Linked DNA regions of Homo sapiens. The protein of the gene in region 1 purifies or fractionates together with the protein of each later gene. This does not show direct contact. Each region holds a gene or a part of one and is shown on either strand. Other genes may lie near its edges. The genes, in order: LETMD1 and CPVL.

Region 1 (7,321 bases):
TACGAAATTAGCTGGGCGTGGTGGTGCATGCCTGTAATCCCAGCTACTTGGGAGGCTGAGACAGGAGAATCACTTGAACCCAGGAGGCAGAGGTTACGGTGAGCCGAGATCGCACCATTGCACTCCAGCCTGGGCAACAAGAGCGAAACCCCGTCTCAAAATAAATAAATAAATAAATAAATAAAGCACAGGATATTCCCCCCATAAGGAAGTGCCAAGGTTGGAAAATTCACACTAGCATGCATTCACTCTTAGGTTTCCACAGTCCCCACTACTCCCTCTTGTCTTATGGCCTACTTCGTTACCTGCCGGGCATGCAGTAGGCATGTGAGTTTGTGCCCTTTCAATTAGATGTATGTATATATATGTCTCACAGTACTCAATAATTAACTCCAAAATGACCTCAGAATAAAATACAAAAGTGACTTGGATTTTAGTGGTATAACCACAGAAATGTGTTTTACCTTTCAGGCTGCAGGAAATCTGCAGCCATTCTCCCAGCCAAGTTCGACACCTATCTTCACCAATATGCGTAGAATTCAGGCCACGGAGATAACAAGCCTATACCACTCAGAACAGAAATGGTCCTTAATAATCATAGAATGATTATGCCAAGGAAATGGAAATCCACAAACAATCCTAAATCTCCTTTAAATAAGTTACAATCTCACCGGGCACGGTGGCTCGTGCCTGTAATCCCAGCACTTTGGGAGGCCGAGGTAGGCGGATCACGAGGTCAGGAGTTGGAGACCAGCCTGGCCAATATGGTGAAACACCATCTCTACTAAAAAATACAAAAATTAGCCAGGCGTGGTGGCATGCACCTGCAGTCCCAGCTACTCGGGAGGCTGAGGCAGGAGAATCACTGGAACCTGGGAGGCGGAGGTTGCAGTGAGCCAAGATCATGCCACTGCACTCCAGCCTGGGCAACAGAGCGAGACTCTGTCTCAAAAAAAAAAAAAAAAGTTACAATCTCATTCCCACATGAAGCCTTTCCTCATGGCAATTTGAAAACTAGTGATGGACAAGATGACAAAAGCAAAGAGTCCTATATAAGCTAAAATAGTAGGTCTAAACTGCAGTATCCTTGCTTTCTGAAGTGCCAGAAGAAAAGAAATACAAACCAAAATTTCTGTGGGCAATTCCTTCCCCCTAGCTAAGTTTCTTGAGAAAAAAGACACAGAAATGAGGTGAGGAGCTGGGCGCAGTGGCTCATGCCTGTAATCCCAACACTTTGAAAGGCCAAGGCGGGAGGATCACTTGAGCCCAGGAGTTCAAGACCAGCCTGGGCAACATAGTGAGACCCTGTCTCTACAAAAATAAAAAATAATTTTATTTTATTTTTTGGGTTTTTTTTGAGACAGAGTCTCACTCTATCACCCAGGCTGGAGTGCAGTGGTGCGATCTTGGCTCACTGCAATCCACCTCCTGGGTTCAAGCAATTCTCATGTCTCAGCCTCCCAAGTACCTGGGATTACAGGCATGTGCCACCACTCCTGGCTAATTAAAAAATAATTTTTAAAAAGGCCGGGCACAGTGGTTCACGGCTGTATTCCCAGCACTTTAGGAGGCCAAGATGGGAGGATTGCTTGAGGCCAGGAGTTCAAGACCAGCTTGGTTAAAATAGTGAGACTGAAAAATAAATAAATATGCTGGGTGCGGTAGCTCACACCTGTAGTCTCGGCACTTTGGGTTGATGGATCTCTTGAGGCCAGGGGTTTGAGATCAGCCTGGCAAACATGGTGAAACCATCTCTACTAAAAATACAAAAAATTAGCTGGGCGTGGTGGTGCACACCTGTAATCCAGCTACTTGGGAGGCTGAGGTAGGAGGATCACTTGAACCGGGAGGCAGAGGTTGCAGTGAGCCAAGACTGTGCCACTGTACTCTAGCCTGGGCAACAGAATGAGACTCTGTCTCAAAATAAATAAATAAATAAAAATAAATCATAAATAAATAAATGAAGTGAGAGAATAAAGAAGCTGGGTTCTATAAACAAACAAGACAAGGAGCCCCTGTAAACCTCCGGCCTGCCATAGGCTCAAAAGCACACCAAGGGTTGAGGGTTGATGTTGCAATCAAGCTCTTACCGATTTTACTTCCTGAGCAGTCAGCTGGCCAATCCCCAGCTTTGCCAAAGCCTTGTCCAGTTGGTGAATCACAGTTGTATGAGTCTTCAAACGATGTCTCAACAAGGGAGGAGGCAGGTAAGATGTGAGAAGCATGGCCCGGCTCAAGGCTTTCTGTAACACAACCACATAGGAGGGGAAAGGCAAATAGTATGAGCTCAAGCAAACACCTGAAACATGGTGATGCTATGGAAAAGAGAAGCCCTCAAAGTGCTCACCACGTGCAAAGCCTGGAGTTGGTTCATGCCCAGAGGATGGTTAGAGAAACACTCTCTCAGAGCCAAGATATCATGTATTGCTGGGTGGGTACCACGCTGTATCTTGGAAGAGGTAAGAGATTTGTAGATGTTAGGAAAGTCCTGACTACTCCTCTTACCTAGTTTAGTGCACACTGAATCTAACAAGATTCCACATTTGTAGGAAGGGTTAACTGCAGGAATACCTTGGTGCACAGATCTGTCAGACGCCACCGGAGTCCTGCATCAGAAATGAGAGGGATGACCTTTTCTAAATAACTAATAATTTCTGGGTGGGACTGCTTCCGGAAAGCATGATAGATATCTAAGAAATCAGTTTGTTGTTTTGGGGTCCAGAAATGCCTGATCAGTAGTTGCCTGGGAAACAGGTACCTGAAAGGAGAAAGAATCACAAACTCACTTGCTGAAACTGGCTTCTTTCAGAGGAAGCCAAAGAAAGCATTTGGTAGACATGAATACTAGGAAGAAGAGATGGAGACACTATTTCCCTACCTCAGTGTTCTTTTTCTTTTTCAGTTTTTTTTTTTTTTTTTTTTTTTTTAAGAGACAGGGTCCCCTCTCTCACCCAGGCTGGAGTACAGTGGCAAGATCACAGCTCACTGCAGCCTCGACCTCCTAGGCTCAAGCAATCCTCCCACCACAGCCTACTGAGTAGCTGGGACTACAGGCACAGGCCACTATGCCTGGCTAAGTTTTTAATTTTTTTGCAGAGACGGGTCTTGCTATATTGCCCAGGGTGGTCTCAAACTCCTGGTCTCAAGCAATCTTCCTGCTTCAGTCTCCCCAAGTGCTGGGATTACTGGTGAGAGCCACTACAGTCAGCCCTTTCTCTTAAGTGACTCTCAGACCAAAGTTTATAAGACACACTGAAGCACAATTTCAAGCACCATTACTGAAATGGGATGTGAAAGGAAGGACTAGCAGAATAGCCTGCCACGCAGCAATCAGATATAATGACTCATTTTGAACTAAAGCATGTGAAGAGCATGCTTTGGAGAGAGTTGCAGCCTGACCAGGACACTATATGTGATGTTGACAATCTAACTATAGCACAGTCCTTATGTGGACCCAGTATGTAAAAGGCAACTGATTTGTTGTTTTTTTTTTGAGACAGAGTCTCGCTCTGTCACCCAAGCTGGACTGCAGTGGCGCGATCTCGGCTCACTGCAACCTCTGCCTCCTGGGTTCATGCGATTCTACTGCCTCAGCCTCCCAAGTAGCTGGGATTACAGGCACCCGCCACCACGCCTAGCTAGTATTTTGTATTTTTAGTAGAGACAGGGTTTCACTGTGTTAGCCAGGATGGTCTCAATCTCCTGACCTTGTGATCTGCCCGCCTCGGCCTCCCAAAGTGCTGGGATTACAGGCGTGAGCCACTGCACCTGGCCACGATTTGTTTTTTAATTTATTTATCTACGTGTTTGGTGGTTTTAAAACATGACCTCAAATTCTCTGGCACTTGTCTCATGGAGAGCTGAGGTCTACATCCTGCCCTTTTTTCATTCTAGGTGACTGATTCAATCAATAGGACAGAGCAGCAGTGACTCTATGTGACCTTCAAGACAAGGTTATAAAGTCATGTAGATTCTTACTAGAACCCCTCACTCTTGGAGCCCTGAGCTCCCAAGTTAGAAGTCCCACTATCTTGAGGCTGCCATACTGAAGAAGCCACATCTGGGCACTCTGGTTGACAGTTCTAGCCGTGTAGCCATCCCTGCCAGGGCACCAGACATAAGAGTGATATTGGACTTTCCAGACTAGTCCATTCAGCAGCTAAATATCACTAAGGGACCTCTGTCAACCCTATATGGAAGAGAGAAATCAACTGCCCACCTGAGCACTGCCCTAATTCTTGAGCTACAAAATCATGAAAATGATTTATACGATTGTTTTATGCTATTAAGCTTTGAAGTTATTTGTTATACAGCAATAGATAATGAATGACATGCAAGATCACAGTTAAGAAATGTCATTTTTGGATATGAAGTAATAAAAATGTTATCAGAATACGAAATGTACTTTTCCTAAAGAAATTAGTCTAAAAGTACTCTCTCTCGGGGAGAGAGCCTCTAGGGATGATGGAGAAGGTCACTATCTTATTTCACATGACTCAGGGCAGCTAAGAGATAGGGAGAGTCTAGGCCACCTACACTTATAGCTGTGATGTGTCACAGTAACCAAGGTCTTCCTAAGTGGTTTTTATGAACCTTGGAATAATGAGAAGATTGGAGCAGAAGTTTGATAACCTCTGCCTATCTTCTGAAATGAGTGCTGTTTAAAGTAATTCTTAATTTAAAAAAATTGATACATCTTCAAGATGTTGGGGAGATGGAAGTCTGTACTCACATTAGCAAGAAGACCAGGTAGTTGGCAAAAGGTGGAATGGAAATAATACCTAGGAAAAGACACTTGGTGACGTCTTGGCGGAACTAAGCAGAAATAAACACAGATGCAGTTTTAACCCAAATAAGTTGTTAATACAATAGACAATCCATCCACCCCACTGTACAGTAAACTTCTATTACAGCCCAGAAAAAGGACCAAATTTCTTTCTTTTTCTTTTTGAGATGGAGTCTTGCTCTGTCACCTAGGCTGGAGTGCAGTGGTGCAATCCTAGCTCACTGCAACCTCTGCCTCCTGGGTTCAAGTGATCCTCCTGCCTCAGCCACCCGAGTAGCTGGGATTATTGGCATAAGCCGCCACTCTAGGCTAACTTTTGTATTTTTAGTCGAGACAGGGTTTCACCATGTTGGACAAGCTGGTATCAATCTCCTGACCTCCAGTGATCTGCCCGCCTTGGCTTCCCAAAGTGCTAGGATTACAGGCATGAGCACTGCATGTGGTCCCCAAGTTTATTTCTATTTACTTCTGGATGGTTAGTTCCTTGAGGACAAAACCTCTGACTTATTTACTTTTGTATCCCAAATAATGTCTAGTACAGAGCCTGACATTATACCAAATCCTTCAGTGAACTCTTCCTGATCTGCGGAATGGGTCCTAGATTCTTACTCTCAGCTTCAAAACGACCCATCAAGTCACCACCAAATACTACTTTCATGCTGCCCTTTGGATCCTTGCAGACTTTTTTTTTTTTGAGACAGAGTTTTGCTCTTATCACCCAGGCTGGAGTGCAGTGGCGCGATCTTCACTCACTGCAACCTCCGCCTCCCAGGTTCAAGCAATTCTCCTGCCTCAGCCTCCCGAGTAGCTGGGACTAGGACTACAGGCGCCTGCCATCATGCCCAGCTAATTTTTGAATTTTTAGTAGAGATGGGGTTTCACCATGTTGGCCAGGCTGGTCTCAAGCTCCTGACCTCAGGTGATCCGCCCACCTCAGTCTCCCAAAATGCTGAGATTATAGGCGAGAGCCACTGTGCCTGGCTGCCCTTGCAGACTTCTATTTTCATTTTATTATTATTTTTTTTTGAGATGGAGTCTTGCCCTGTCACCCAGGCTGGAGTGCAATGGCATGATTTTGGCTCACTGCAACCTCTGCCTCCCGGGTTCAAACGATTCTCCTGCCTCAGCCTCCCGAGTAGCTGGGATTACAGGCGCCCGCCACCACACTCAGCTAATTTTTGTATTTTCAGTAGAGATGGGGTTTGACCTTGTGGGCCAGGCTGGTCTCGAATTCCTGACTTCGTGATCTGCCTGCCTCGGCTTCCCAAAGTGCTGGGATTACAGGCGTGAGCCACCGCGCCCAGCCCCCTTGCAGACTTTTGTTATGTTCAGAAACTAATTAGATTTTAGTATTTACAACTTTCATTCAGAAAGTGTGCCAGAAATTCTATGGAGCTCTTGCTATGGAGGGCTACAACTCTGGATGAACCCAATTCTTACAAATAATCTGATGCCTCATTCAGTTCAATATTTTGTTCTCACGGCAAAGGGCAAAAGCTTGATCAATGGTGAACAACAAATGAAAGAAAAAACCTTGAGATCTTGATTAAATGTAATTACCTCACCATGAACTTCTGGATATCTGCCCCTGGCCCATACCTGTCTCAAATGCTCCATCTCCCGGTATGGAAGTTGATGAAACTTTATATTGTGCTTCCACATATTTGTCTTTATTCTTCTAGCCTTTTTGGCATCAGCCCATAACATCTGCAATCCTGCCTCATTAAAGTAGAGGACAGAGTGTGATGTTATCCCAGTTTAAATCTTAACCACAGCTTCCTACTCCATGTTCAATCACATGCAAACACTCTCACCCCTCCCCAACGATACTCAAAGCTTTAAACTAGGTAACTTGAAACTCCTGAGGTCAACTCGAATCTCTTTTCTCAACATTTTTTCCCCTAGCACATCGCCTCTCTTCTAGCTACATTTGGCTTCTGTAATCTGCTATGGAATGGTCTCCCTCTTCTGTTTCACTGGTCACTCCTTTTTAAAAATCAAGCTCCCTAACTTCAGAAAGTCTTGCTAAATTAACCCTATGTATTCCCCAGCCAGATATTAATTTAATCTCCTTTCTGGAACTTTTTTTTTCTTTTTTTTGAGATGGAATCTCACTTTGTTGCCCAGGCTGGAGTGCAGTGGTGCGATTTCGGCTGACTGCAACCTCCACCTCCCAGGTTTATATAATTCTCCCACCTCAGAATCCCAAGTAGCTAGGATTACAGGCGTGTGCCACCATGCCTGGCTAATTTTTGCATTTTTAGTAGAGATGGGGTTTCACCATGTGGACAGGCTCGTCTTTAACTCCTGACCTCAAGCAATCCACCTGCCTCGGCCTCCCAAAGTGCTGGGATTACAGGCATGAGTCACTGCGCCCGGCCTGGAACACTTATTTTTGTTTTTGAGATGGAGTTTTGCTCTGTCGCCCAGGCTGGAGTGCAGTGGCGCAATCTCGGCTCACTGCAACGTCCACCTCCTGAGTTCAAGCAATTCTCCTGCCTCAGCCTTCCGAGTAGCTGGGATTATAGGTGCCCA
Region 2 (7,321 bases), on another chromosome or scaffold:
TTACAACACTTTAACTCACTTTACACCCTTTTTGTGCAAGTACTGTCTTTTGAAAAACTTCTACATAGTTCAAACTCCAGAAGACATTATTAATTATTGATACTCCTTACTTGTGTTCACATATGTAAATTCTCAGTTGCTGTTCATTCTCCTCTGCATTTTCATGTTTCCATTACGGATAATTTTCCTTCTGTCTGAAGAACAGTCTTTCGTACTTCTTTTAGTGCAGGTCTGCTGACAAAAACCTTTTCCAATTTTTTGTTTCCTTGAAAATATCTTTACAAGGTCTTCATTTCTATACAAGTTCTAGGTTGGCAGATATTTTATTTAAGAACTTTCAAGATATTATTTCACTGTCTTCCAGCTTTCATTGTTTCTGTTGAATAGTCAGTTTTCTTGCTGCTTTGAAGGTACTGAAAGTACTGTTTCCTTTTCTGTGACAGCTTTTAAGATTTTCTCTGTCTTTGCTTTTAGCAAAATGCTATTCTCTCTGTGTGTGTGTGTGTGTGTGTGTGTGTGTGTGTGCACATACACATACTATAGTGTAATATACTATTACTAATATACTATTATGTGTACTATGATGTGGTTAGTTTGCTTTGTGTTTATTCTATCTAGGATTCATAGAGCTTCTCAAAACTGGCTTGGTAACTTTTGTCAATTTTGGAAATTTTTCAGTCAGTATCTCTGAATGTTACTATTTGTTTCTTTTGCCCCATTTCTTCCTTATCATTTTATCCTAAAATTCCAGTTAAACATAAGTTAAATGTTTCATGGTTTCATGTCGTCTTCTTCTTCTTTTTTTTTTTTTTTGAATTTTCATACCTTTATTCTCCATGCTTCAGTCTGGATATCCTCTACTGACCTAACTTCCAGTTCATATAGTGTTTCTTCTGCATGCCTAATCTATTGCTAAAACATCGATCGAGTTCTTAATTTCAATGAACAATGAATGAGTAACTTTTTAGTTAAAGAACTTCCATTTGATTCTCTTGTATATATTCTAATTATCTTGTGAATTATTTTTCTATACCTAACATCTTGCATATTTTGTTCACAGTTACTTTAAAATGTGTACCTGGTAACTCTAATATCTGGATCATTTGTGGTCTCTGTTATCTTTTTTTCTCCTTAAATTTTAGTCATTGCTCTTGTTCTTTGTCATGCCTATTAAATTTTATTAAATGTTGAAGAAAATGTACAAAAAATATATGAAGAAAAATGTTATTTTTCTTCCAAAAGGATTTAATTTTTTCTAGAAGGCATACAGAGTAGAGGCATATCACCTTGATAAAGTTTGGGATTGAGACGATTGATTCAGTGCTTGATTTCAAGGTTTGTGAGGACTAACCTGTTTCTGGTTTGTTATTACTTCCAAGGCATTGTCTTTCACGGATCTGATGGAAAGCCTGCAGTGCTTACCAGTGCTGTCCCTCCTTGACAGGCTTGCAACTCCAATTTTTTGTTGTTGTTGTTTCTTTTGGGGTTTTCTTTGTTTTTGTTTTTTGGTCTCTCAAGCACCGTAAGACTAATGAGCTTTTCATTCTCTTATCTGCCGCTTTTGACTTGGCGTCTTGGTCAGAGAAGCTTAAAAATTGGTGAATTTCCCAAAGGGAAAAGCAGCACAAAATGTTAGGCTCACTTCCTTGTGATTCCCTTTTCTCTACGATCATGGCCTCTCTCAAGGCTTGGTTGCTCTCTGATACCTTTAAACAGCTTATTTTCTTTTTAATTCAGCTTCTATTGTTTTCTGTGGAATAAGATTGGTTTGGTACATGCTATTGTGTCACAGTCAGAAGTGGAAGTCCTAAATTACAAACAGTATTGTTGCAACTGATTAAGATGGTGTACATAGGAAGCCCCTTGGGGATGTTGTAAAGGAGCACCAAAAGTTTTAACTGCTCTAGAATATGTACCATTATGATGGCTACATGTGGGTCTCCTGAAGCACCTAGAAGCTCCTTTTCTCATTCTATTCAATAACCATTTGCTACACCAGAGGTGTACAGTGGGAGACCTCAAGAATCGTTTCCCTGAGTGCTGTTGAAGCAACTCCCAGCCTTGATCTCTGCTGTTTTTTCATTCTTTCGAAAGTGACTTATTGCATTCTTTGTTAGGAAGTGTCTGCTAACAAGCTTTGGCTTGTTTTTTATTCTCGTTCCCAAGTACCTTTTCAATATATTTTTATTTGAATGCTATTTACGTTATTTCTACTTATAGTTAGTGTCTGAAAGCAAACTAAAAGATAAGATTTAGTAAATGTGGAATGGCATAAAAGTAGTGAAAAGAACTTACATGTAAATCAGAAACCACAACAAGCAGATTCTCTTGAGGGTATGCATCTTTCTATACTGGAAAGCAGAAACAATAAACCAATCCTACATATTCTGCCTGCCAAACTTGCAGCTCCCATGTGGCTCTTTTCTCTTTCCTGGTGAGTAGCACCACCTTTGCAAATCTGCCCATGTCAGAAGCCTGAAATGGGGAGGATTTGTTGGGGATGGGTAGAGAAAGTCTCACTTAACCTTTATATCGGATTAATCACTGATTTTATTGGTTCCATCTTACTACCCTCTTCTCCTTCCCCTTCTCCCCATCCCTCCCATGAGCCCACATCCTCTCACCTGATTTGGTAGTCTCCTAATTTGCCTCCTTGTACCAGTATGACTCCCTTCCAAATTAGCCTTCTCCTTAGACATTAAGTCATTTTTCTACAATGCAAACATAAGCATGTCACTACCCTACTTAAAACCCTCTAGGATATATCCAGAATAGGCAAGTCTATAGAGACAGAAAGCAGATTAATGGTTGCCAGGGGCTGATGGGGAGAGGGGGAGTGGGAAGTGATTACTGATGTATATGGGTTTCCTTTGGGGTGGTGAAAATATTCTGCAACAAGATAGTGTGAATATACTAAATGCTACCGAATCATACGCTTTAAAATGGTTAAAGTGGTAATTTTATGTTAAGTGTATTTTACCACAGTTGCTTTTAAAGCCCGATAGGATAAGGTCCACTCATCCCAGCATGTCACTTGGGGCATCACATGGTCCCACTAGCGTTTGCCTGTTCATCTGTCTCTTCTGTTTCCCTCTATTCCTGCATGAATGGGACGACATACAGACTGCTGCATGCGCCCGCAGCTTCACGGCCCCTGCATTTCCACACAGAATTTCCTTTGTCTGCGGTGATCCCTCTGCTGCACGTGCCCACAGTTTCATGCCCCTGCATTTCCATGCCTCCTGCATTTCCACGCCTCCTGCATTTCCACACACAGTTTCCTCTGTCTGCGGTGATCCCTCCACCCCCACCCCACCCACCCACCACTCTCCGTCCAGTGATCTCCTTCAAGACCCCCAAGAAGCTTCCCCTGACACATCTACATCAACAAGCCCACTGTGAACTTCCCTCTCTTTTCTGTCATCTAAACAGGCACAACTGGGAAACCTTTACTGGCAGGTCTTTGTTTCTAGTTCCAGGGAGAATTATATTGTTTTCTAAAAAATAAAGTGGAATGAAGCTTTAAAGTGTTTGTATAACCCTGTTGAAATTCATGACACATTTGTGACCCCCTGGAACATCTGGAACACATGAAGTTAGAGGCTGCAGCTCTAGTGTGGAGGCACCCAAAATAGACAGTTCTATTCAGGGAGCCCTGAGATTAATCTTGTCACATTTAAATACGTAATTACAGCCCTGACACATTTTGTTACTCACCTCTAAAAGCTGCCAAGTGGTCTGTTATCTTTGATTTGTGAATGGTGAGTGGCTTGATTATAAACAAGAGTGGTTTATTTTTCCACACTCAAAAATATATTTATTTTTGAAGTTAATATCAGTAAAATGCTGTATGTGAATCTGCTTAAGAATATGCTTTGTTTGGGAATTTTGTGGCATGTGAAACAACTTTGTCCCTTAACAAGCTTTCTCTTCCCGCAATATTAATGACACAATTTACAATGCCATTAGGGTCATTACACATGGCAGCTCAGAAATTGGACCAGGGTCAGGTAGGTCACTGAGAGGAAGAGTAAGAACACCTGACCCCTTCAGCGCTCCTTCACCACTTGATAATTATGGACAGGGAAGGTGTGTGTGAGTGCGCATGTGCGTGAGTAAATACCAGGAGAGCGGATACCCAGGAAGTGAGGTCATGAGTAGGTATTAAACAAATTTCTACTTGTATTCATGAGTAGGTGTTAATCAAATTACCTTGATGTAAACAGAGAATTCCCTGGTTTGCCACAGAGTAGAAAAAAATTCTCAACAGTGGTTTTCAACAAGCAGTTGGAACAACAGCATCAGCATTGCTTTGGAATTGTTAGATATGCAAATTCTTAGGCCCTGCCCTGGACCTTCCGAATTGGAAAGTCTGGAGGTGATGCCTCACGATCTCTTTTAATGAGCTCAGGTATTTTTATGCACGTTCAAATTTGAGAGTCATTGTTTTGTTTTTTCGTTTGTTTTTGAGGTGGAGTCTCACTCTGTCGCCCAGGCTGGAGTGCAGTGGTGCCATCTTAGCTCACTGCAACCTCTGCCTCCCAGGTTCAAGTGATTCTCCTGCTTCAGCCTCCCCAGTAGTTGGGATTACAGGCGTGCATCACCATGCCTGGCTAATTTTTTTTTTTTTAATTTTTAGTAGAGGCAGGGTTTCGCCATGTTGGCCAGGCTCTTTCAAACTCCTGACCTCAAATGATCCGCCCACCTCAGCCTCCCAAAGTGTTGGGATTACAGGCATGAGCCACTGCACCCAGCCAAGAACCATTGTTTTAAACAACCTTTTTTAAACCAAGGTTTTTTATGAAAATGTAGGAACACCATGTTCTAGGGTAGTTTAGGTTCATATAAGCATATATACATATATATTCATTTATATTTAGAGATGGGATCTCCTTTTGTTGCCCAGGCTGGAGTGCAGTGGCTCAGTCAGCTCACTGTAGCCTCAAACTCCTGCAATCAAGCGATCCTCCTGATCTCAAGCAATCCTCCTGATATAGGCATTTTGATTCTGGATTTTCAATATAGATAAGTGTTGGAAGAATAACGAAAATGACCAATATTTACTGAAGACCATCCCAGGCCGGGCACTGTGCTAAGTATTCCAGGGACATTATTCCACTAACTCCTCACACAACTCACAACTACCCCACGAGGTAATACTTGTTTCCCAATTGTAAAGTAAAGGAACCTGAGGCTCAGTGAGGTTAAGTTCCTTGCCCAAGGTCACACAACGTGCAGTGCCTCTTGCCATGCTCCTGCACTCTGACTTCTGAGCCCAGGCTGTGAAGCACTGTGCTATCCTTTGTTTGTCCTTTGTTAGCTGCAGCACTGGTTCTGGGGGCAGGATGACCTTTAGCTCTTGGGTATTCAATTTATTGGTGTTCCGGACCATTGCTGCCAAACTCATTTCCAGTTGAAGCAGCTGGGTTTTGTCACACATATGACTTTGTTAAGTGTCCTCAGCTGAGCTGAAGCTGCACAGAAATCACTCATCAGATTCCTGCCAGGGCCAAAGATATGGATGAAAATCTGCAGGAAGAAATGTCTAGCCTGGGATTGCGGGGCGGCAAAAGTTTCCCTCTGGAGTCCTATGAAGGGGTTCTTGTCACACATGTTTACTTTCAGTTTGTGATAAAAAGTGGGCATGCTGGGTTTCCAGTTGCAAGCTTCTACACAAATGGTAGATGGGTTTCACAGTCATTGCAGTGAGGCACAAATGACCATTGATCAACTGCAGCAAAACACAAAAGTTTCACATTTGCATGTGAAAGAGTTAAGTCTGGTCCCACATCTGCAAATGGGATCTGCCTCCCTCACTGTAATATGTGAAATACAAAAATACAGAAAATTATGTTTATATCTGCAATAATTTTTTTCATCAATAAACCTCAGAGGGCTATTGAGAGGTGAATAAAAATGTTCCGTGACTAAGCTGCAAATTTCAGTTCAAAGATAAGGAATGATTGAGTAGAGGGTTTGATTAAAAACACCACACCGGTGTTTGCATCAGAAGTCAGGGTTCTAGCTAGTTATCTCACTTAACAATTGTGTGACTTGGACAAGCCACTGAATAATTCCAAATAGCTCAGTCATCTCAATGCTCATGTGAATGGTGCTCCCTGTAGTTGTTCAGTGCACAGCTTGTATAGCTGCGAGCTGCAAGGTAAATATCATCTAATAGTGTTAATCCTACTTACTGCACGTCAAGGTTGTAAGATGGAGGGTGTTGGGATATAGGGGCAGATTTTCAATATAATAAATGTACTATCCAAATATACTTTTTCTGCCTCAGTTTCCTTCAGATTGAGACAAGTAGAAGAACCCAGCCTCTTAGGAAGGGCCTTGTGAAGGTGACCTTTAATTGCTGATCGTGATTCTGCAGCTAGAAGTTACTGAAAGTGATGTCCTTTTTGCATACGTTTATTCACTTCATGCACTGGTACCTCCTGTCCATTCTCCACATATGGAACGAGACATCTCAGGCCAGGCTGACCTCTCCTGCATGTAACTTCCCAACACTCAGTGTCAGTCCTTGCCCTTTTGGCACTGAATCATGACAGCTTCCCGTTTCCCTCTACTTGGAATATTAGCTGACGCTAGAGGCTTAACGAGTACAGAGACCAGTCCCCTTTTGCTGATTGGATCTCATCATTAGAGATGTTTTAGGAATGCTTTATATCACCCAACAAGGGCTTGGGTTACGTAGGTGTCTGCATTTGTCAGAACTGGTGAGTCTACACTTAAGACTAGCGCATTTCATTGTATCTTAACTTGACTCAAAAGAAGAAAATCTGTAAACACATGTTGAACTCTGATGAATAATGTGATGCTGAAGTGTGTGGGGGAAGTGCACTACATGCCCATTTTACTTTGAGATGTGTCAAAAATATAAGATGGATTAGTGGATGGGTGTGGGATGCATAGAGGCACCCTTATGTGAGAAAGCAAGTAAAGTGAAAGTTCATGACTCAAAATCGTCACTATATGAATTGTTTTCGAATTTGCTATGTTTTAAAATGTTTTATAATCCAATATTAGGAAAAAAAAGAATGTTCTAACTCTATGCTGCTCAAAACATGACTTTCTTTCATTTCAAGTGTCAAGTTTTTTGTTTTGTTTTTTTTTTTTTTGTTTTTTGGTTTTTTTTTTTAAGAGATGGGGTCTCATTCTGTCAACCAGGCTGGAGTGCAGTGCATGTGGCATGATCCTAGCTCACTGCAGACTCCAACTCCTGGGTTCAGGTCATCTTCCTGCCTCAGTCAAGGATGTTTTTGGTTTTTTAATTTTTTTGAGAACCAAAATTTCCCCTTCATTACTGATA

Evidence for each region.
Region 2: the proteins of LETMD1 (region 1) and CPVL purify together in Homo sapiens (affinity purification with mass spectrometry; 3 studies listed by BioGRID and IntAct, with this or other methods). This does not show direct contact.

The regions. Positions count from the first base shown.
Region 1 is NC_000012.12:51,051,272-51,058,592, reverse strand, and holds part of LETMD1 (LETM1 domain-containing protein 1), read right to left. Parts: intron 6,506-7,321; exon of another isoform or gene 6,502-6,505; coding exon 6,386-6,501; coding exon of another isoform or gene 6,347-6,385; intron 4,816-6,346; coding exon 4,733-4,815; intron 2,759-4,732; coding exon 2,572-2,758; intron 2,450-2,571; coding exon 2,348-2,449; intron 2,244-2,347; coding exon 2,091-2,243; intron 588-2,090; coding exon of another isoform or gene 562-587; coding exon 465-561; intron 1-464. UniProt on the Homo sapiens protein: Plays an essential role for mitochondrial structure and function, as well as thermogenesis of brown adipocytes.
Region 2 is NC_000007.14:28,996,359-29,003,679, reverse strand, and holds part of CPVL (probable serine carboxypeptidase CPVL isoform b precursor), read left to right. Parts: intron 1-2,295; exon of another isoform or gene 2,296-2,351; intron 2,352-2,624; exon of another isoform or gene 2,625-2,711; intron 2,712-7,321. UniProt on the Homo sapiens protein: May be involved in the digestion of phagocytosed particles in the lysosome, participation in an inflammatory protease cascade, and trimming of peptides for antigen presentation.